3 linked regions of the Homo sapiens genome follow. The protein of the gene in region 1 interacts with the protein of each later gene in a biochemical or structural test. Each region holds a gene or a part of one and is shown on either strand. Other genes may lie near its edges.

What was found.
Region 2: the proteins of PLD2 (region 1) and ARF1 form a complex in vitro, tested with the Homo sapiens proteins (2 studies listed by BioGRID).
Region 3: the proteins of PLD2 (region 1) and PRKCD form a complex in vitro, tested with the Homo sapiens proteins (one study listed by BioGRID).

Annotation. Positions count from the first base shown.
Region 1 is NC_000017.11:4,810,152-4,817,176, forward strand, and holds part of PLD2 (phospholipase D2), read left to right. Parts: intron 1-650; coding exon 651-800; intron 801-4,266; coding exon 4,267-4,350; intron 4,351-4,481; coding exon 4,482-4,560; intron 4,561-5,324; coding exon 5,325-5,435; intron 5,436-5,612; coding exon 5,613-5,783; intron 5,784-6,390; coding exon of another isoform or gene 6,391-6,429; exon of another isoform or gene 6,430-6,468; coding exon 6,469-6,595; intron 6,596-6,785; coding exon 6,786-6,904; intron 6,905-6,924; coding exon of another isoform or gene 6,925-6,994; coding exon 6,995-7,025.
Region 2 is NC_000001.11:228,085,695-228,092,719, reverse strand, and holds part of ARF1 (ADP-ribosylation factor 1), read right to left. Parts: intron 1-7,025. UniProt on the Homo sapiens protein: Small GTPase involved in protein trafficking between different compartments. Modulates vesicle budding and uncoating within the Golgi complex. In its GTP-bound form, triggers the recruitment of coatomer proteins to the Golgi membrane.
Region 3 is NC_000003.12:53,164,196-53,171,220, forward strand, and holds part of PRKCD (protein kinase C delta type), read left to right. Parts: exon of another isoform or gene 1-908; 5' UTR 909-1,020; intron 1,021-4,507; exon of another isoform or gene 4,508-4,587; coding exon of another isoform or gene 4,588-4,625; intron 4,626-7,025.

The sequences.
Region 1 (7,025 bases):
ATAGTTTTGAACCAGGAACTGGTCTAGCCAGATGCTTGGGACTGCTCTTAGACTGGGCCCAGAGAAAGGGGATTAGTAGAAGCCTGGGAAGGGAACTGCTGACATAAACGAAATTCCATTTGTTCATTTGTTCATTCAACAAACCCGAGTGCCTGGTACAATACTGGTTGCTGATGCAATACTAGGATCCAACTATGAGTAAGGTGGATATGGCCGGGCGCGGTGGCTCACACCTACAATCCCAGCACTTTGGGAGGCCGAGGCGGGTGGATCACCTGAGGTCAGGAGTTCGAGACCAGCCCAGCCAACATGCTAAAACCTTGTCTCTACTAAAAATACAAAAATTAGCCGGGCGTGGTGGTGCGTGCCTGTAATCCCAGCTATTTGGGAGGCTGAGGCAGGAGAATCGCTTGAAGCTGGGGTGCAGAGGTTGCAGTGAGCAGAGATCGCACCACTGCACTCCAGCCTGGGGGACAAGAGCTAAACTCTGTCTCAAAAATAAATAAATAAATAAGGCAGATACATACACGCCCTATCCCTGTGCAGTTGTGATTAGGGACTAAGGGAGGAAGTGGGAAAGGGGAGGTCTCTAGGCAAGATCACAGGTATGGAGGGCGAGGATTTATGGACATCTCATCGTTCCCATCCAGGTCCTTGATTCTCAAGTGCAGCAGCTACCGGCAGGCACGGTGGTGGGCCCAAGAGATCACTGAGCTGGCACAGGGCCCAGGCAGAGACTTCCTACAGCTGCACCGGCATGACAGCTACGCCCCACCCCGGCCTGGGACCTTGGCCCGGTGGTGAGACACTGACATCCCTTCTGAGCTTGTCTGTGGCTTTCTTGACCCCCTGTGTAATCTCTGAGTCCTTCATCCTCTCTTTTCTCATCTGAACCCTCCTGACCTCAATGACCCGCCCCGTGACTTCTTTAATCTTCCTGACCTTTGACATCTTTAACCACATTGATCTCTCTGATTTCGCGCCGACCTTTCTGACCCCCAAACTTGGTCATCTCTTCTGACCCTTGACCTCTCTAACCTCCTATAACCTTTTAAACCCCTCTCTACAATACTGACCCTCTCTGTTCTCCATGATCTTCTCAAATCTCTCTGATTTAGTCCTTCATTTAATAAACATTTTCTTTTCTTTTTTTTTTTTTTTTTTTTTGAGAGAGAGTTTTGTTCTGTTGATCTCGGCTCACTGCAACCTCCGCCTCCCAGGTTCAAGCGATTCTTCTGCCTCAGCCTCCCGAGTAGCCGGGATTACAGGCGCCCACCACCACACCTGGCTAATTTTTGTATTTTTAGTAGAGACGGGGGTTTCACCATGTTGGCCAGGCTCTTCTCGAACTCCTGACCTCGGGTGATCCGCCCGCCTCGGCCTCCCGAAGTGCTGGGATTACAGGCGTGAGCCACCGTGCCCAGCCTTAATAAACATTTTTCTAAGCACCTAGCAGTGCTGGCAGTAACACACAGTCCTCTCTGGGTTAGGGAAGTAGGTGATCAAATCGTGAAACAATGTGAACTTGCCGTACTGGTGATAGGTAGAAGGTGACACGCACAGACAGGAAGTACCTGGCCCAGCAGGGATATCAGGACAGGTTTCCAGGAGGTGGTGACCCTCAGGTAGTTTTGCTTTAAATCAGAGACTGACACAATATTAATTTTGTTGGTTTTTGTTGGAGACAGTGTCTTGCTCTGTCACCAGGCGTGTAGTGCAGTAGTGTGATCATGGCTCACGGCAACTTCAACCTCCCAGGCTCAAATCATCCTCCTGCCTCAGCCTCCCAAGTAGCTGAGACTACAGACACATGCCACCACACCCGGCTAATTAAAAACATTTTTTTTTACAAAAAATTTTAAAAATTAGACGGGTGTGGTCTCGAACTCCTGGGCTCAAGGGATCATCCTGCCTCGGCCTCCCCAAAGTGCTGGATTGCAGGCATGAGCGACAGTGCCTGGCCTATATACTTTTTTTTTTTTAAGGCAGAGTTTCGCTCTTGTTGCCCAGGCTAGCGTGCAGTGGCACAATCTCAGCTCACTGCAACCTCAGCCTCCCAGGTTCAAGGGATTCTCCTGCCTCAGCCTCCCAAGTAGCTGGGATCACAGGTGCATGCCACCACACCCAGCTAATTTTTGTTTTGGTTTTTTTTTTTTTTTTTTGAGATGGAGTCTGTCTCTGTCACCAGGCTGGAGTGCAGTGGCAGGATCCCACCTCACTGCAACCTCTGACTCCCCGGTTCAAGTGATTCTTCTGCCTCAGCCTCCTGAGTAGCTAGGATTACAGGCATATGCCACCATGTCCAGCTAATTTTTGTATTTTTAGTAGAGCCAGGGTTTCACCATGTTGGCCAGGATGGTCTCGATCTCCTGACTTCGTGATCTGCCCACCTCGGCCTCCCAAAGTGCTGGGATTACAGGCTTGAGCCACTGCACCTGGCTATAAACTTCTAAAACAGCCAAAACCAATCCACAGTGATGGAAATCAGATCAGCAGTTGCCTGTGGCAGGGTATGGGGAAATGATTGCCTATAGTGGGGCACACGAGGGAACATTCCAGGACGATAAAAATGTCCTATATTTTGATAGGACTGGTGATTGCGTGGGAACATACACTTGCTGATCCTCATGGAACTATACAAGATAAAGAAAATGCAGAACAGTCCAGGCACAGAAGACAGAAATAGCTCAGGGTGTTTGGGAACCACCAGGACATATTGTTGTTACTGAGTGAGGAGGAGCAGTCAGAGGAGAAGCTGGGAGTCAGTGGCACCTGATCTCACAGGGTCCCATGTGCTAATATCACAGGCACACAGGGCAGTCATGGAAGGAAGTTTTGTTTGTTCGTTTGTTTTGTTTTGGTTTGGTTTGGTTTTTGAGATGGAGTCTGGCTCTGTCGCCCAAGCTGGAGTGCAGTGGCGCGATACCAGCTCACTGCAGTCTCTGCCCCCTGGGTTCAAGCGATTCTCCTGCCTCGGCCTCCTGAGTAGCTGGGATTACAGGCGTGCACCACTATGCTCAGCTGATTTTTGTATTTTTAGTAGAGATAGGATTTCACCATGTTGGCCAGGCTGGTCACGAACTCCTGACCTTAAGTGATCCACCCGCTTCGGCTTCCCAAAGGGCTGGGATTACAGGCATGAGCCACCTTGCCCAGCCTTCCTGCATATTTTCACATGTGCATGCACGTGTTACTTTTGTTTCAACATAAATGAGATCATGCAACCTCTTCTGTGACTTATTTTTTCACTTAATACCTGTGTGAGAGATTAGACACTTATATTATTTCCCATTTTTCACTCTTACAAACAATGTGATGAACACAACATTTGCCTAGGCATTGTATTAGATGTATTCCTAGACATGTAATTACCATGTATATTTAATGATATTAAAGGGTATATGCATTTAATATTTTGATACTGCTGACCAGTCGCTTTGGCTCATGCCTGTAATCCCAGCACTTTGGGAGGCCGAGGCGGGTAGATCATTGGGGTCAGGAGTTCAAGACCAACCTGGCCAACATGGCAAAAACCCGTCTCTACTAAAAATACAAAAATTAGCCAGGCGTGGTGGCGGGCGCCTGTAATTTCAGTTACTTGGGAGGCTGAGACAGGAAAATTGCTTGAACCCAAGAGGCGGAGGTTGCAGTGAGCCAAGATCATGCCATTGCACTCCAGCCTGGGTGACAGAGCGGGACACCATCTCCAAAAAGCTATATATATATTTTTTGATACTGCCAAATTGTCTCCTAAAAGTTATATTCCCATAGTCTATGAGAATACCCACTTCCCCAGCATATTGAATATTGATATTGAATGTTACCAGTGATTTGAATTATTACCAATCTAATGGATTTTTTAAATGTAATTTCATTTTAATTTCGTTGTTTACTAGTGAAACTGAACATTTGCCACGATTGGCCATTTTAATTTCTCTGTGAACTGTCAGTTCTTACTCTTTGCTCATTTTTCAGTTGGCTCATGTGACTTTTTCTTGTCGATTTATTGGTGTTCTTTATGTATGATGTATTAATCCTCCTGTTCTTTAGTTGATTAGGTTATTGTGTCTTTTTGTAATTTTTATTTGTATTTAGCGCATATGGGCAAACACTATTTTGATGTGTCTGATACCACTTGTGTTCTCTGATCATTTCTGATCTTTGACCTTGCTGTCACCTCTGACCCACGACTGTCCTCCGGTCTTCACTCTCCAGAGCTTTCTGGCTTCTGACTCCCCTGACCTCCTTGGCTTGGCCTCCCCCCAGGTTTGTGAATGGGGCAGGTTACTTTGCTGCTGTGGCAGATGCCATCCTTCGAGCTCAAGAGGAGATTTTCATCACAGACTGGTGGTGAGTGGGAAAAGGCCCCAACAACATGGGGCAGGATAGAGCCTGGGGCAGATCAGCATTAGGAGGAGAAGGGGGGTGCAGCTGGTGGTCTGGGGCTTCGTTTGCCCCTAATCCACTGCCCTGAATCCCAGGTTGAGTCCTGAGGTTTACCTGAAGCGTCCGGCCCATTCAGATGACTGGAGACTGGACATTATGCTCAAGAGGAAGGCGGTGAGGAGAGTGGTCAGGCCGCAGGGGGAGGGGGTTGCCTGTGGGTGGAGGTTGATTAGCAGGGCTGCAGTGTGGGAGAATTAGGCAGTCTGAGGCTTCAGGGGAGGGAAAAGTGTCCATCCTGGCCCAGCACCTGTCAGACATCACCTCCGCCCTCTCCCTCTGCCCTAAGGAGAACTGACAACTTCCTCTTCATGCTCCCTCCACCTGGCAGAGACTTCCCTCCCAGTATACATAATACTTTATTGTGTTATCTGGGGGTATACATGTCTATCTCTCTCACTGGACTAGTTAATATCACTGTTCCACTACAAGGCACAGTACCTGCCATGGAGGGGGCATGTGTGGTGTTGATGGACAGGAAGAAGGATGCATGGATGATGCAGGGTGGCTGGGCAGGTGGATGGATAGAGGACAGAAAGGGTGATGGATGGAAGGATATGAGTTGGAAAGGTGGAGGGCTAGGAGGGTAGGCAGGTAGATGGATGAATGATAGACGGTACATAAAGGGATGAGTAAATGCTTGGGAAGATGGATGGATGGATGATGAAGGGTGGGTGGATAGATGTGTGGATGGGTGAGTGGGTGAGCACACAGATGACATTTAGTCTAAGTCTGTGGCAAGCAGCAAAGCAGGGCATATGTGGCAGAGCCTCTAGGATCTCCAGACAAGCTGGAGGGACACACGTGGAAAAGGTTTGGGAGTGTGGAAAGGGGCTACTCTGGGAGAGGCACTAGGATCTGATTCCCCAACTCACCACCAGGAGGAGGGTGTCCGTGTGTCTATTCTGCTGTTTAAAGAAGTGGAATTGGCCTTGGGCATCAACAGTGGCTATAGCAAGAGGGCGCTGATGCTGCTGCACCCCAACATAAAGGTGACTCTCGGCCTCAGAGACCCTCCCACATGACAGCCCTTCTCCCCACACTGTCCCAGCCCCCAGCGCTCCCGCTCCCTGATGGTCTCATCTTTCCATCTTTCCTCTCTCCCTCCCAGTACCTCCTGTTTTCCTTCACCTAAACCCACCCTCATGAACCCTCCATGCCTGCTCCAGGTGATGCGTCACCCAGACCAAGTGACGTTGTGGGCCCATCATGAGAAGCTCCTGGTGGTGGACCAAGTGGTAGCATTCCTGGGGGGACTGGACCTTGCCTATGGCCGCTGGGATGACCTGCACTACCGACTGACTGACCTTGGAGACTCCTCTGAATCAGCTGCCTCCCAGGTAATCCCCCTGAGGCCTTCCTGAGCACCCCCAAACTCAGATAAGCTCAATCAACACCATTTCCCAGCTCCAGCCTTACCCCCTCAGTCATTCCAGGCCCTGCCAACCTCAGGGTTCCTCAGACTTTCTGGGACTCCAAGAACCCACTTTGAAAGTGCTGTAACTGGCCGGGAGCCATGGCTTATGCCTGTAATCCCAGCACTTTGGGAGGCCAAGGCGGGTGGATCACCTGAGGTCTGGAGTTCGAGACCAGCCTGACCGACATGGTGAAACCCTGTCTCTACTAAAAATGCAAAAAATTAGCTGGGCATGGTGGCAGTTGCCTGTCATTGAAGCTACTCGGGAGGCTGAGGCAGGAGAATCACTTGAACCCAGGAGGCGGAGGTTGCAGTGAGCCGAGATTGTGCCATTGTACTCCACCCTGGGCAACAGAGCGAGACTCTGTCTCAAAAAAAAAAAAAAAAGTGCTGTCACCCACCCAGTCCTTTCCCCATTTTCACTGACCATCACCCCATTCCTCTAAAAGTGTCAAAGGCAACTGGAGGGGAGGGCTGGGGAATCAGACCCTCTGTTTCATTCTTCCTCTCGGTCTCTCTCACTCTTTCAGTGCTCCTCTCTTTGGCCCTGGCTCTGTACAGCCCCATGACTTCCCCTTGCCCCTGGCTTGGGTGTGTTCCCCCTACAGCCTCCCACCCCGCGCCCAGACTCACCAGCCACCCCAGACCTCTCTCACAACCAATTCTTCTGGCTGGGCAAGGACTACAGCAATCTTATCACCAAGGACTGGGTGCAGCTGGACCGGCCTTTCGAAGGTGAAGCCTCCCACCCGCCAAAGCCCCAGAGAGCTGAGAGCAGGGTCAGAAGCTGGGGCTGGTACTGAGAGTGGGATGAGAGGGGTCAACGGTGGTACAGCCCTCCCTCTGGCAGGCTCTTTCTCCCTGCCCCAAGTGTCCCAAGGAGTCCAGCCCTGACATCTCCCCTGACTCTCCTGGGACCCCCCAGATTTCATTGACAGGGAGACGACCCCTCGGATGCCATGGCGGGACGTTGGGGTGGTCGTCCATGGCCTACCGGCCCGGGACCTTGCCCGGCACTTCATCCAGCGCTGGAACTTCACCAAGGTGTTCATTCCCTCCGATAGGGGCTGGAGGTAGGGAGGGAGCCAGGGCAGATTGGCACCTCCTGCTGACTCTGCCATCCCTCCACGTCAGACCACCAAGGCCAAGTACAAGACTCCCACAT
Region 2 (7,025 bases), on another chromosome or scaffold:
GGATACTTTGGCATGAGTCAGGGAAGGGAACAGGCGCAGGCGGAAGGTTGATCATCTCCCCCAACCTGTCAGAGCTGGTGTATGTAACAGAATCTCTAAGTGACCTGAACTGACAGGAACCAACAGAAAGACAGAGACACCTCCAACCTCTAGCACAGGACAAACAAGCTCCAGGTCCAAGATTCTGTTCTGCTGACTGACATCCACGAATGGGGCTCACATGATGTGCTCTGCTTACATGGAAAGCCAGTGACATCGAGAGTTCTCTTTTTGAGACAGGGCCTCACTCTGTCACCCAGGTTGGAATTCAGTGGTTCGATCACAGCCCATTGCAGCCTTGAGCTCCTGGGCTCAAGCGAACCTCCCACCTCAGCCTCCCAAGTGGCAGGGAATGCAAGGGCAAGCCACCATGCCTAGCTGATTTTTAATATTTTCTATAGACAGGGTCTCGCTATCCTGCCCAGGCTGATCTTGAACTCTTGGGCTCCAGTGATCCTCCTGCCCTGACCTCCACAGTAGTTGGGACTATGTGTGTGAGCCAATGCACCCCACCCAGAGTTCTTTTTCAAAAAGCTTTTATTAAAGTCAAGTTCACTGACAGATAAATTACACACATCTTTATAGTTCATAATCTCAGTTTTACTATCTAATCTGAGGAAACTGAACAAAGCTGATGACTTCCTGAAGGGACTCATGTACATTACATAACATTTTAAGAATTTCTGAGGAACAACAGCCTTTCAACAGTCATACATATAGTGTAGATGATCAATTTCGTGAAAGCCTGTGTTCATGTCCCACACGAAGATTTTCATTTTAAGGGAGTCCTTAAAATGAAATGCAATATGGCCATTTATTCTCACCTGCACAAGCTGCTGCTTGTTTACCACACCAGCCAAATAAAGCCTATGGTCATCACGCTACCCGCCAGCCAAATGCTCCATTTCTGTAGGCCTGACATTTTTCTGTGACTGAGCACTGCATTACATTTTGTCACTATTTTACCAAAACTCACGTAAAGGGAAAACTAAATGTGCCGATACTGGTGACAGGCAGACACATCTCACAGGCTGGCACAATTGTGACACAGGTGCGAATCAAAAGGCATGCTCAGAGGGGAAGACACATGACCGAGACACTCCACGCACCCAATCATGTTGAAGAGACTTGCAATCATGCAGATTGAGACAAAAGGATGGCACACACATTCTAGAACTCTTATTCTGGGCTGCATCTGAAGGCGAGTTCCACTGGGAGTCTGCTGTTTTTTTTACACAAGTTTCAGGATGTTTTTAGAGGAGCTCATTAGGCATTACAACTCGACACAGTGACCCCACAGCCATTAGGAGATGAGGGCTGCGAGGCACAAGGGTCCCCTCTAACACATCTGCTGCTGGCCTTGAGTTAAGGGAGGGCATTATCTATCAGGTCTGACTTTCAGGTGGGGCAATCAGTGAAATTCAGTTTAGATCACTGTTTGTCAGCTTAAAATTCAAGGTGATATCTTAAATCAGTTTGTGTACTGACAGCCAGAAATGAATTCCATTTTTGTGATTCCACCTCATGGACTGAGTTCTGGGACTATAGCTAATGTGAACACCAAAGAACCGTTGCCCACTAGCTAATGTAAACACCAAAGAACCATTACCTGCTTATTTGTGTATTTCTTGCTTCTTGGTATTTGTGAAGTGTTACTTCAAAGCACCTCACCAAACGTAAGTCCTTCTGAAATCTGCAGATGCACAGCTCTAACCACACACCAGGTGGACTCCCAGGGCTGCTGAAGGCAGTGTCTCATGACCTCTGACCACAGCTACAATGAAGGACTTGCACTGGCTGTGCACATGGCATCATGGCAAATGCTCTCCAGTCCTTTGTGCTGCCCCAGCCCTGCTCTCTCAGTGATGGGACTCTGGTCTGTCACTGAGCACAAGGCCCTCTAGAATAAAACCCCTGTTTCCTGGCCTCCCTGCAGCTGTGCACACCCCGTGAGTCAGCTTTGTCCATGGATGCTTACACAAGGACATGGAAGGGGCAGCAGAGCCTGGGGCCTACCAGTATTTCTACTCTGGCAGGCAGGGTGCAGTTGGCCTCTACCTGGCCCCCAGTGCAGTGGCTGATGGACTGGCCACTGGGAAAACCAAGACCAAAAACGCAAACCCACATTAGCCCCCAACACTGAAACTCACAACACAAGCTGAGAATAAGGAACCTGCAGGGATTTAACACTGCAACGAGGAACAGCTAAGAAACACAGCACCCCTACCCCCACCTCTCCCTGCAGGTGACAGCTGCCGGGAGAGTACTTCAACCAGCCCCGTCCCCAGGGCCAAAGAACCAGCAGTTTGAGGTCAGTTTGGTGCCCACAGGGGAGACCCTGTCTCCACAGGGCTTCTGACCAGAACCCCAACTCCTAGGTGAGGTCCCAATGCCCTGGATCATGGCCCAGTCCAATTCTGCCAGGCGCCTATGCTGTGCCCAAGGGCTCTTCCAACTTGAGGGCAGGCACTCCCAGGGGCCTGGGCCCTTGTGCTTCACTCTCTCCCATGCATGCTAAACAGCGAATGACTGTGCGATGGCACAGCACCAAGCCAAGAGGGCAGGACGAGTGTCCACATCCCAACCATCTGCTAGCAGTGCGTTCCCCTGTACCTCACATGGAGGCCGCTGGTTCCAGCAATGACCAGAGGCTGAGTCCACAGTGCCCATCTCAGCATGGTCAGCGCACACGTAGCGGAGCTATCTGATGTGACAATGCTACCCTGGTTTTCAGGGGAGTGGCAAGAACCCAGGAAGAGAGGGTGATACTCAGTTTTGCCAGTTCACTTCCTGAACTACACACTCACCACAGACATGCTGGGCACTGAGCTACTGCCAGGCACTGTTCTGGACGAACATAGGCCCACCATTGTGTGGGGCTGGGGGATCCAGGGCCCTGAAGGCCCCTTTCTACACCACTTGAAAAAAAAAAGGGGAACTGGAACAGCACACTGCTGGTGTTGCTGTCATAAACTGGGAGAGCAAGTTGCTCCTTCCTCCAACCACTAGAAGGGGGTGGGGCCCTTGTAGCTTCTCCGCACCAGGTTAAAGAAAATTAATGCAATGGCTGCACCAGTGATTGAGCCAATGCCTAAAACTTGATTTCTGCCTTCAAGAAACGTTCATTTTAAAAATGTAGGCTGAGGGGAAACACCACACAAAGACTTGCTCTTCCAGAGAAATCAAAAGCGAAGTGCAACAATGGGAGTGGGAACCATCACCAGGTTTCCCCCAGCTTTGGGACGAGCACCACCTTGCCACCCCACCCCACTCTGGTCAGTCAGACATGTAAAGAGACGGGGATGCCCCCCCACAGACCCTGGGAGGCCACCGCCCTTGCAGGAAATCCTCGCTTCTGGAGGCACTCCAGACCTAGGTGAGAGAAAGGCACACCCCGGGGACACTCTGGGGACCTCCCTTCAAGTGACCTAGTTCTCACACACACGCTGGCATCTGCCCTGCTCTCCAGGTGATGGTGGCCCCTACACAACGACCCCACATTTCTCTTCAAGACTTTAGACCCTCCTCCCAATTCCTGCCCCTTGACAGCCAGCTTTGCAGCCGAAACCCCCCTCCCAAACCCAACAGGCATTCTCCGCTGTGATGCGAGTAGCCTCCCTCCTGTTCCCCAGGCAAGAACCCCGTCTCCAGCCTCCTCCTGCGTGTTCTCAGCACACCAGTCAGCCAGGTGACCCGATGTTCTACTCAGAGCTGCCCCACGGCTGCCGCCCGATCAGGTCCTTGCAATAGGCTGCCTTGGTCCACAACATAATGCCCACACTGTGCTCTAAATGCTGCCTCTGGCAACCCAAAAGGAAGTAGAGACAGCATCCCAGCACTCGCACAAGACGGCAGAGAACCACTGCTCTGTCCCAACTATGATGCAATGGGGAGTAAAGGAAAGTGACTTCACAACCACGCTAGAGGACCAAGGGTGGCGGCCAGAGAACCACCCTTACCAGGCTGCTCATGCACTGACACCACCAACCTCAAGGGCAAGCCATGTCCATGAAGCAACTACTGTAGCTTTTCCTTCTGGAAACTGAATTCTTGCTGTGATTCTGAAGAGAACAATACACAGTCATCTTTGATTTATAAGGTGATTTTGTTCCTGGAACTTCAGAACACCTGTTAAAACTATGCACAAAAATTTTTTTTTCATATTTATAACAGGTCTGGGACATCAGACGACCTCCCCTACATGAAGGTCAGACAGGAAGTGTTCTTGCCACTGCCAAAGGTGCCAGTGCTGCCACCCAAAAATGCCACCACAGATTACCAAATTCCTTTTTCTGGGAACCGCGGACCCCCTCCGAGGGCCACTGCACACCCCAGCAGGCTTCCCACCCAGTATGCACCCTACTCCTGACAGGTCTCCAAACTCTGCCAGCCAGCGCACTCACCTCAGGGATTCTGCCCTGATTGTCCCGGGCCACTCCTTCACATCTCTGCTCACATGGCACCTGTCAAATGACACTCAGCCCCTTCCGGATGGTCCTGGTATCTCCCTGCCTTCCCTCCACCAGTGTGGGCAGCTCTGTGTGGCACTCACCGTCACAGCCACTGCCCCCGTGGAGCCTCATGCTCATCAAGCAGGGCTTCCTTTGCCCAGAACAGGCCTTCCTCCCCAGCCTCCCACCCTCTTCCGCTGGGCACTGCACAAGTGACTCACCACCAAGGAGAGGAGAAAACAATGGCAAAAGAATGTTTATCAGGCCCATAGGGCTCATGAAGATCAACTGTACACATCTGCAGATGTGCTTTCCCTAAAAATTAAGTTCGTCACGAAAAACCTATCGCATCAACAAGGAATTGCATGCTTTTTAAAAACTGTACTCATGTGTGGGTCAGTCTGAACATTCTTTTGACCATAAAAATGTGGGAAAATGGGGTTGTAGATGCTGTTAACTACTGAAGGCAAAAGTGTGGCAGCTCAGTGATGTCAGACACAAGAGGGAGGGAAGGATGTGTGTTCAAAATCTGTTTTCTAAACCTGCCCCCAGGTCCTCAGCTGATGAGTAGGTATAAATTTTTTTAAGAGCTAAGGGTCCTGCTCTGTTACTCAAGCTGGAGTGCAGTGGTTATGATCACAGCTCACTGCAACCTTGACCTCCTAGGTTCAAGTGATCCACTCTCCTGCCTCAGCCTCCCAAGTAGATTGCACTACACAGGTGTGAGCCACAGTGCCTGGCTAGTACAAATATTTTAAGGAAAATGTCACCACCAAAATTGCCAGAAGATGTATTCATAGTATTTTAAATATAAATCAATAAATTTGATTGGTGAGTGAGCAACTGCATTCCCATCTACAGAAGGTACAAAGCACAGGCACATCTAACTGCCTCCGTTCCCAATCCCCAGGATGAGTATAGATGATAGCTTCTTGGCCATTTGTACCTAAATCAAACCTATAAAATACTTAAAAGTTTCCCGCATAGCGTATATGGTACTGCAAAAATAACTTGCTGTATGACACAAATGGAAAGATGTCTCATGTCTAGCCATGCTACCACTGGAAGCCCTTTGGAAATGAATCTTTCTAGCTTGCTGGCATCCCTTCAGGGAGTAAAAACTATTTTAATACATTCTGCCTAGAAGGCTTTCAAAATATACTATTTTGAGGACATAGGAAAACCCAAACTCAGTTTCTCACACACTCTTATAACACAGGTCGCTTCTCACACCACATGAGCAGGGGTTTCTCCCTACATGCCAAGCAAGCAACCAGTTCTGCGTTCTGCAGCAGACACCAGCTAGGTGTCGTTTAATTCAGTTCAATTCTGACACTGTCTACCTGGAGGCAATCACAAACTCCAGGTTATTTTACCTGTGCTTCTGGACAGCCATCTATAAATCAGGGTTCCCATAACTCCTTCCCCTTGGGTTCAATTAATTTGCTAGAGTGGCTCACAGAACTCAGAAAAACACTAAAGGTTACTGGTTTTTCATAAAGGATGTTACAAAGGATACAGATGGAGAGATGCAGTGGGCGGTGTATGAGGGAAGAGACACGGCGCTACCTTTCCCTCCTGGCTGTGCCATTCTCCAGGAACCTCCATGAATTCAGCTTTCTGGAAGCTCTCTGAAAACCCAGGCAGGCCTTTCGGGTATTTCCCATCAACAAGGAATTTCATGCTGTTTCTTTTTTTTCTTTTTTTTTTTTTTGAGACAAAGTCTCGCTCTGTTGCCCAGGCTGGAGTGCAGTGGCGCGATCTCTGCTCCCTGCAAGCTCCACCTCCCGGGTTCACGCCATTCTCCTGCCCCAGCCTCCCGGGTAGCTGGGACTACAGGTGCACACCACCACACCTGGCCTATTTTTTTGTATTTTTAGTAGAGTCGGGGTATCACCATGTTCGCCAGGATGGTCTCAATCTCCTGACCTCATGATCCACCCGCCTCAGCCTCCCAAAGTGCTGGGATTACAGGCGTGAGGCACTACGCCCAGCCTCATGCTGTTTCAAAATTGTACTTAAGTGTGGTTCAGTCTGAACATTCCTTTGTACAAATGTGGAAACACGGGGCTGTAGATGCTGTTAACTACTGAAGGCAAAAGTGTGACTTCATGGTATAGGTGTGATTGATTAAATTATTGGCTATTGGTGACCAGCTCAATCTTCAGTCCCTCTCCACTCTGGGAAAATTGGAGGGTGGGGCTGAAACCCTCTAATCCTGCCTTGGCCCTGTGACTAGCCCTACCCTGAAGTTTCGTAGGGGCTGCCCATCACTGGTCAACTCATTAGGGTACAAAAAGACATCATCACTTCGGAGATTCCAAGTATTTTAGCCAGGAAATGGGAGGCAGGCCAGATATGTATTTTGCAATCCACAACTATAGACTTCTAACTTCCTGAAATGTTCATGGACTGAATCAACTCTCCTGTCCACTTCATGCTGTACACCAGCAGTGAGCCCTGGGCCTCAAGGGTGTGGGAGAATGTCTGCCTTCTAAACAGAATCATTTTCAATTGCTGTGCCTGTGAAAATCT
Region 3 (7,025 bases), on another chromosome or scaffold:
CAGGATATCTCCAGGCCTCAGTTTTTTCAGCTGTGTAATGGGCACAATAGTAATGTGAGAATCACCTGAACTGTAAGGCACAAGAGATTAAAAAATGTCACTCTTCAGTCTGGGCACGGTGGCTCACACCTGTAATCCCAGCATTTTGGGAAGCCGAGGCAGGTGGATCACTTGGTCAGGAATTTGAGACCAGCCTGGCCAACATGGTGAAACCCTGTCTGTACCAAAACTACAAAAATTAGCTGGGTGTGGTGGCGCGCACCTGTAATCTCAGCTGCTCAGGAGGCTGAGGCACGAGAATCACTTGAGACCAGGAGGCAGAGGTTGCAGTGAGCCAAGATCGTGCCATTGCACTCCAGCCTGGGCGATAGAGTGAGACCCTGCCACATTAAAAAAAAAAAAAAGTCACTATTCATTTGGCATTCTCAACATGAGTCCAGCACAGGAGCTGGCACGCCACATCATTGGAACCTCAGAACCACCTGGGGAGAAGAGGCTAGTAGTTTCCCCATTAAAAAAACTGAGGCTCAGGGAAATTGCACCAGGACATAAAGTGGTGGTACTTTGTTGCACCCTAGGACTCCTAAACCTGCAAGGCAACCTCCCACAGACAGGAGGGTCAGGAACAGGTTTTTGCTGTGTTATTGGCTTCCTCACCAGGCTGGAAATGTGCTCAGGGCAGGGACACAGTGTTCCAGCCCCTACCATGGAGTGGACAAATAGTGGTGCCCAGGAAAAGTTGGGCCCAACACCACATTTCAAGGAAGGGAAAGCCACATCCAGAGAGACCCGAGGTTTTAGGTCCAGGAGAGACTGAACTGGGCCCGTCAGCCATGCTGGGACTGGTAGACGGGGAGAGCCTGTTTGGCGGTGCCTCCCGGCTCAGCTGTTTCCTCCTGTTCCTACAGGTCTGCAGGGAACTGGCCAGGCAAGGGGGCAGGCCCGTTTCTCCTGGTGGTTGGTGCGTTGTAGCAGCAGCGGGAGCCAGGACTAAGGACAAGCAGGAGCTGGGAGCCCCAGGTAGGACTGAGTTCTCTTAGGCAGATGGATGGTGCACCGGTGTAGCCTTCCTCTCTGGCCTCTTTGTCCTTTGCTGTGGAACTGGATGGGGTTGGGCATGCATGCAGAGTCCTTGATCTGGTTGTGGGCCCTGTGTGCCCAGGGGCCGCAGCTGTTTGCCCTGTCTATGAGGGGCTCTCTGCTCATGAGGAACTTCCTGCCTAACCTGGCTGTGGCCCCAGAATGCTCTCACCTTGGAGCTCAGAGGCCTGGGGCCTACCATTAATTTGGGGCAAAAAGTAGTAACGCTTTTTTGGTCAGTTAGAGAGGGTGGCTCATGGGCCAAAGATTGAGGGTGGGTGTGTCAGCTTTTCCATGGCCCTGTATCTGCCTCAAACTCACCTCATCATCACACAAGGACACTGAAATTCCCCGTGGGCCCCACAGTGGGTTGGACACTGCAGGGGGATGGAATGGGGTCTCCAGCTCCAGGTACAGCTGAGCTGTCTTCCACACCCCAGGCCCCTCCATTTTCCCCAGCTTCTCTGGAGCCCGAGCAGGGCTCAGTCCCTCTCTTCAGCTTCCAGATTCAAGGGGAGCTAGGCAGAGTCTGGAACAATGCTGGGAAGGCTGCAGTCTCTTTGAATCCCCTCAGAAAGCTAGAAATTCCTTGTTTTGGGGCGAGCCTTGCCTCCTTCAGCCCTATTACCATGAAAACATTGCTGTGGGTGACTCCATACTCATTCCAGGCTGGTGACTGGGTGACCGGGCCCCAGTGAACAGGGTACTGGTGGTGGGTATGGGTGCTAATGAAGCTGGAGCCTCGGAGTAACAGTGGGGGGATAGCAAAGACCGTCTTTCCTCCAGGAGTGCTCCCTGAGCAGACCCTCACAGCCAACCCTACTGGCTGTTACGCACCTATAGGTCTGTGAGTAGAGCCATAAAGGCTGGGCTTCCTGGGCCTGACTCTGGGTTGGGGGCAGAAGGGAGGTCAGGGCCTTCACTCTGGGGTAGGAGTTGGGACAGAACAGGAGCAGTCTTCACTGGGCCTTCTGTGTATTGGACCTGTCCCTAAACCTGGTGTGGAGGAAGTAAAGCGCCTTTGGCTGTCTAGGGGCCTCTGCCACCTAAGTTCTGAAGAGCCAGCCCTTTCCGTCACTCAGCCTTGTTTTGTAAGGAGTTTGATTAGTCTTGGAGACAGCCCACTGTAAACCCTCAGACATCACCCTCCAGCTGCACAGACATATGCGTGCTCACACAGGGATATGGCAAGCTAGGCTGCAGTGGGCATGCACACCCACAGACTCATGAGTTCCTGTACGTGCACCACACATGTGGGCATGCAGGTACACAGGTGCTCACATGCAGCCACCCATGGCACACTCACACACACACAGATGCTCTCCCAGTTACCGTTGGCATCCATGCACTCAAATGCCTGCCCACACATACCGCACTGTGCCCATTCTGGGGTCAGGAAGGGGTCCCTGGTCAGAGTTACAGCCCAGTCAGGTCGCCTGCATCTGGCACCTGAGGGGCAAGTTCCAGGTGTGGCTGTGATCTCAGTAAGGGGGGCTGGGCCACCCTGGTAGGTGGGCTCTGCCCATGCATTCAGCAGCCACCCTGCCCACCTGGCCCCAGGCTCCAGGCCGACCAGGGATTGGCATGGGAGATGGGAGGCATGAATGCGGGGGAGAGGCTGTGTCAGCTGTGCCAGCACTGTGTGCCTGCTGCTACAGCAGAGGAAGTAGGCTGTCTGGCCATGGGGCCAAGGTGCTCACAGTGGGTGGGGGTCCTATCAACTCCTGTGTCCCCCACGGTGTCCATGCCTAGAGGGAGTGGAGTTGCTGGGCTCTAGGGACTGAGAGGTTGGCAGGGGCTGTCTGTTCACTTCCCAAAGCCTGGGCCTAGGAGAGAGGCCCATCTGTTCAAGGCGTTTCCGGAGGCTTACTTCCTCTGAGCTGCCCAGGAAGTGGTTTTGGAGTGGGACTGACCAGCCCTCTGTCAGTGGCTCTACGCCTTGCTCCGCCCCTGCCTTGCCTGCCCAGGGGAGCAGCGTCTGGCCACCGGGTTAGGCTGACTGACCAGGCTTTTCACTGCCAGGGCTGCCCAGGCCTTTTTGGGGGGCTCTAGGAGAAGGGCAGGGGGCAGGTCACGAAGTCCCCTGCAGTCCCCACAACCGTGGCTCCTTTCTTGCTCTGAGCCTGTAAGCCGAGGCTCAAGAGCATCAACTCTGGTAGGCATGGCCCCCTTGAGAGAGGTGATGGCTGGGCTGCATCTTAGTGACTAGGCAGCTCCCAGCAGCTCTATGAATGAACCTGGGCAAGTGGCTCTGCCGCTCAGTGCCTCAGTCTCCCCCTGACAGATGAGATAATGATAGCATCCATCTTGATGAGGTTGTGCGGAAATGACAGATAACATATGCAAAGTAGCTGGCATCGTGCTTAGTGCATTGTCAGAGTTGAATGAGTAGAAACTGTAGTTATGTAAAGCATTTAGAGCCCAGTTCATGGGAACTATTCAAAAAATAGCAAGTGGGACTGATGAGGGGGTATTATTATCTGATGGGCTGGGCACTGGCCCAGTGTTACATGGCCAGGTGGCTGTGGAGCCTGGCTGAGGAGCCAGGTCTCTGACTCCCTCATCCCCCTCAATTCTACCTCCAGTGGCAGTGCCCTACTTGTTCAGTAGGTTCCATGCCCTCCGAGGAGAGGAGCTCCTGTTGGAGCAGCTCCACCCACTCAGCAGTCCAGCCCCTGCCTGCTCTTCTCCCCCTCACTCCCTTTCAAAGGGAGAAAATAGATCTCGTGACAAATGGATGCAGGGAGGGGAAAGGCAGTCTGCAGCTGCCTGCTGCCCCCTCAGGGCTCCCCTTGGCCCTCTCCAGCTCTGGCCTCCTGCAGGACATTAGGCTGGGAGAATTGGCTGGGAACGAGGGGGTGGACGTAAGCCCTCCTGCCAGCCTGCTTACCCTTCAGACCCCTGGAGTCAGCCTGTGGGCTGGGGCAGGGAGTGGGCATCTGGGACTGATGGAAGCTAGAAGAGTAGGGGGAGCTAGAAAACCCCCTACACCCATGGCAGCTGGGGGCAGGGCCCAGCCTGTCCCAGGGACACGAAGAAGGTCAGCACAGTTAGGGTTGGGCTAAGCATTGGCCTTCACTGTGTGGGGCCCAGAGGCTGGGGATGAGGAGTGTTGAGGAGTGGTAAGGACAGTGATGCAAACAGCAGGGGCCTGAGGGCTGGAGAGCGAAAGGTGGATGGGCCTGGGCGGGAAGTGTGGTTGAGGGTATCCTGAAGGCTTAGGAGCAGGACTTCTGCAGGCATCAGACAGACCCTGGTTGAATCCTTGCTCAATATTTACTGGCTGTGCACACTTGAGCCAGGGACTGGACCGTTCCCCACTTGCCTCGTCTGTGAAATGGGCAGATCACGGGGTGTGGTGTCCTGTGAGACATGAACGATGGGAAGGAGCCACTGTGTGGGGTGGGGTGGAGCAGGAAGACGGAACAGCAAGCCCAGAGGCTCCTAAGCGGGAAGGAACTGGCTGCTTCGGGAACTGAAAGGGGTCAGCGTGGCTGGGGCACAGGAATGAGGGAAAGGCAGCGCCTGCCCGAGAGGTCAGGGAGGTAACGGTGATGGGGAGGGGGGTGGCGGGGGGCAGGCTGCATGGAGCAGGCTGAGGGGAGGAGTCTGGGCTTGTCAGAGGGGCAATGGGAGGCACTGGGGGCTTGGGCAGGGGGTGACAAAATCTGTCTGAAAAGCCCCGTCTGGTGGCTGGAACAGGGGGACTGTCGGGCCGGGGTAGAGGATGGAGAGCAGTCAGAAGACAGGTGCAGAGCCTGGGGATGGTGGTGGTGGGAGAAGAGGATTTGAGACTTGAGGACAGGCTGCAGCGGCAGACGGGATGGCCTTATTGTGTGGGGAGCAGGGGGAGCTGTCTGGCCTGAGCCACTGCCTGAGCTCGTGCACTCCTAGTGGATGAGGAGCGCTGGGAGGGGAACGGCGGGGGACTGGTGTGGGCAGGCTTGAGCTCTTCTGGAGTCATTCATGTGGTGAAGCCAGGGAGGCAGGTGGGGCCACAAGCCTGAAGTTCAGGAGGGTCTGGGCCCAAAGTAGAGACGGGAGCCTAAAGCCAGGATTGGGGAGGAGAGGGCTCAACAGGCCTTCTAAGGGGTGGGGGAGCATTTGAGAGGCCCACGAACAGGACTGGGATGGCTGTCCCTCAAAGGTCTCTGCCAAGGCACCCAGGAGGGCAGGCTTGTGGTGGCTGAGCCGCTGTTTTCACAACAGCTCCGGAAGCTTTGGATCATGTCTATGGCCGTGTTGGGTAAACAGGCAGAGCAGAGCAGGCAGTCGCCAAGGCCTGAGGCTAGATCAGATGTCTGCGTGGTGTAGGTTGTGGGCTGGGGTTGTTGGGGTGGGAGGAGGATCCCAGGGTCCTCCAGTGTCAGGGCTGGAGAAAGCTTAGAGGTCTCCATTGTTGAGACAGGGAGGCTGGAGCCCCGGGAGGGGCAGTAGCTGGCCAGCCTCTGCCAGTGGACTCATGCTGCCTGCTTCAGCCCAGTTCTGCCCAGAGCCTCAGGCCAGAACAGGGCACCCTGCGGCTGGGGGGCTTAACAGAGCCTCTTTTCCCACTTTCCAAGGAAGTCTGGAAGACACCAGAGCACTTGGGCCAAGATCGCGGAGCACCCAGGCAGCAGATCTGAGCTAGGCCTGTCTAGGTCCAAGCTCGCCGGTTCCTCTGTCCGCTGCCTGCTGTGGGATGGCGCACCATGCGGGATGGTCCTGCCTCTCTCCCAGCTTTCTCAATATCCCCAAAGTGGGGAAGCATCATGTGGATCCTGCCCAGATCCTGGGGATGACTGGCAAAAGGGTTAGGTGGCCATCTTGCCTTCTCCCAAACACAAAACGATTGTTTCCAATGGTAAACCATCTGGAAAATCGTGGGAACTCTGTGGGAGAAAGAAGGGCTAAGGAGTAGGGCTCTTGTACTGGGGGCTGATGGAGGAGCTGTTCCCATCTCCAAACACATACCCTCACCCCATTGGAGGCCAGATGGGCAGTTCTAGGACTAGAGCTGGAAGTTCTCTCCCCACTTCCCCCTGGGTCTGCCCCATTGGCTTTGTGGCTTTGGTTGAATTGCTCAACCTCTCTTTCGGTTTCTGCACAGTGAGCCTGGAGCTCAAGGAACTTGCTCCTGGGGTGCCCGGCTTGCTGCCCTACCAACATAGGTTCAAGCCCTCCCCTCCCCCTGCGCGCCAGGCCTGTGACTGCCACCTGTGACCTTCAACCTCCACCATAGCCTCAGGGCCCTGCAGGCAGGTGGGCGGGCGGGCGGAGGCCTGCCCAGTGATGTGCCTGACCAGCCCACTCCTTCCCTTACACACTTTAGACTTTGCTCTGGATCAAGAGGGACTTTCTTCGTCTCCCTGGGTGGAAAGGCCCAGCCTAGCCTGACACCAGCTGCCCTTCTGCCCCTCCTCCATTCCCCAGCCATTGTGCCTGGGGGCTGTGGTGGAAAAAGCTGCATTTGGACTTCATGGTGCCAGACTCTAGTCAGGGATGTGGGGTCCTTCCAGGACTGTATGTTTGTTTCTGTGTCTGCCTGGAGCATCTCTGTGCCAGTGTGTACATCACAGCTTGTGGCACTCCACGTGCGTGTGGAGCCTATGTGGTCGGGTGTGGTCTGTGTGGGCCCGGGTATCTGTTGAGATGTGAGAGCCGGTGAGTGCATGTGTGTTTCTGTGTGTGTGTGTGTGTGTGTGTACGTGTGCCCCTGTGTCATCACAGCAGTGTGTGTACGTACCTGTGGCTCCAACTGTGTGCGTGTGTGTCTAATGTCGAGTGGGGCTCCCTATGTGCTGTTTGGGTTGGCGAGTGTGCCTGTGTGCACACGTGTGGTTATTCGTGGAGAGGCCCGGCTGCATCCCCCACCCTGGCTCCTCACAGAGGCCCCTTGTCCTCACAGGATCTGGCTCTCTGGCTCCTGCCATGAAGGGGCCTTTGTTCCTCTCTCAGGGGTACCT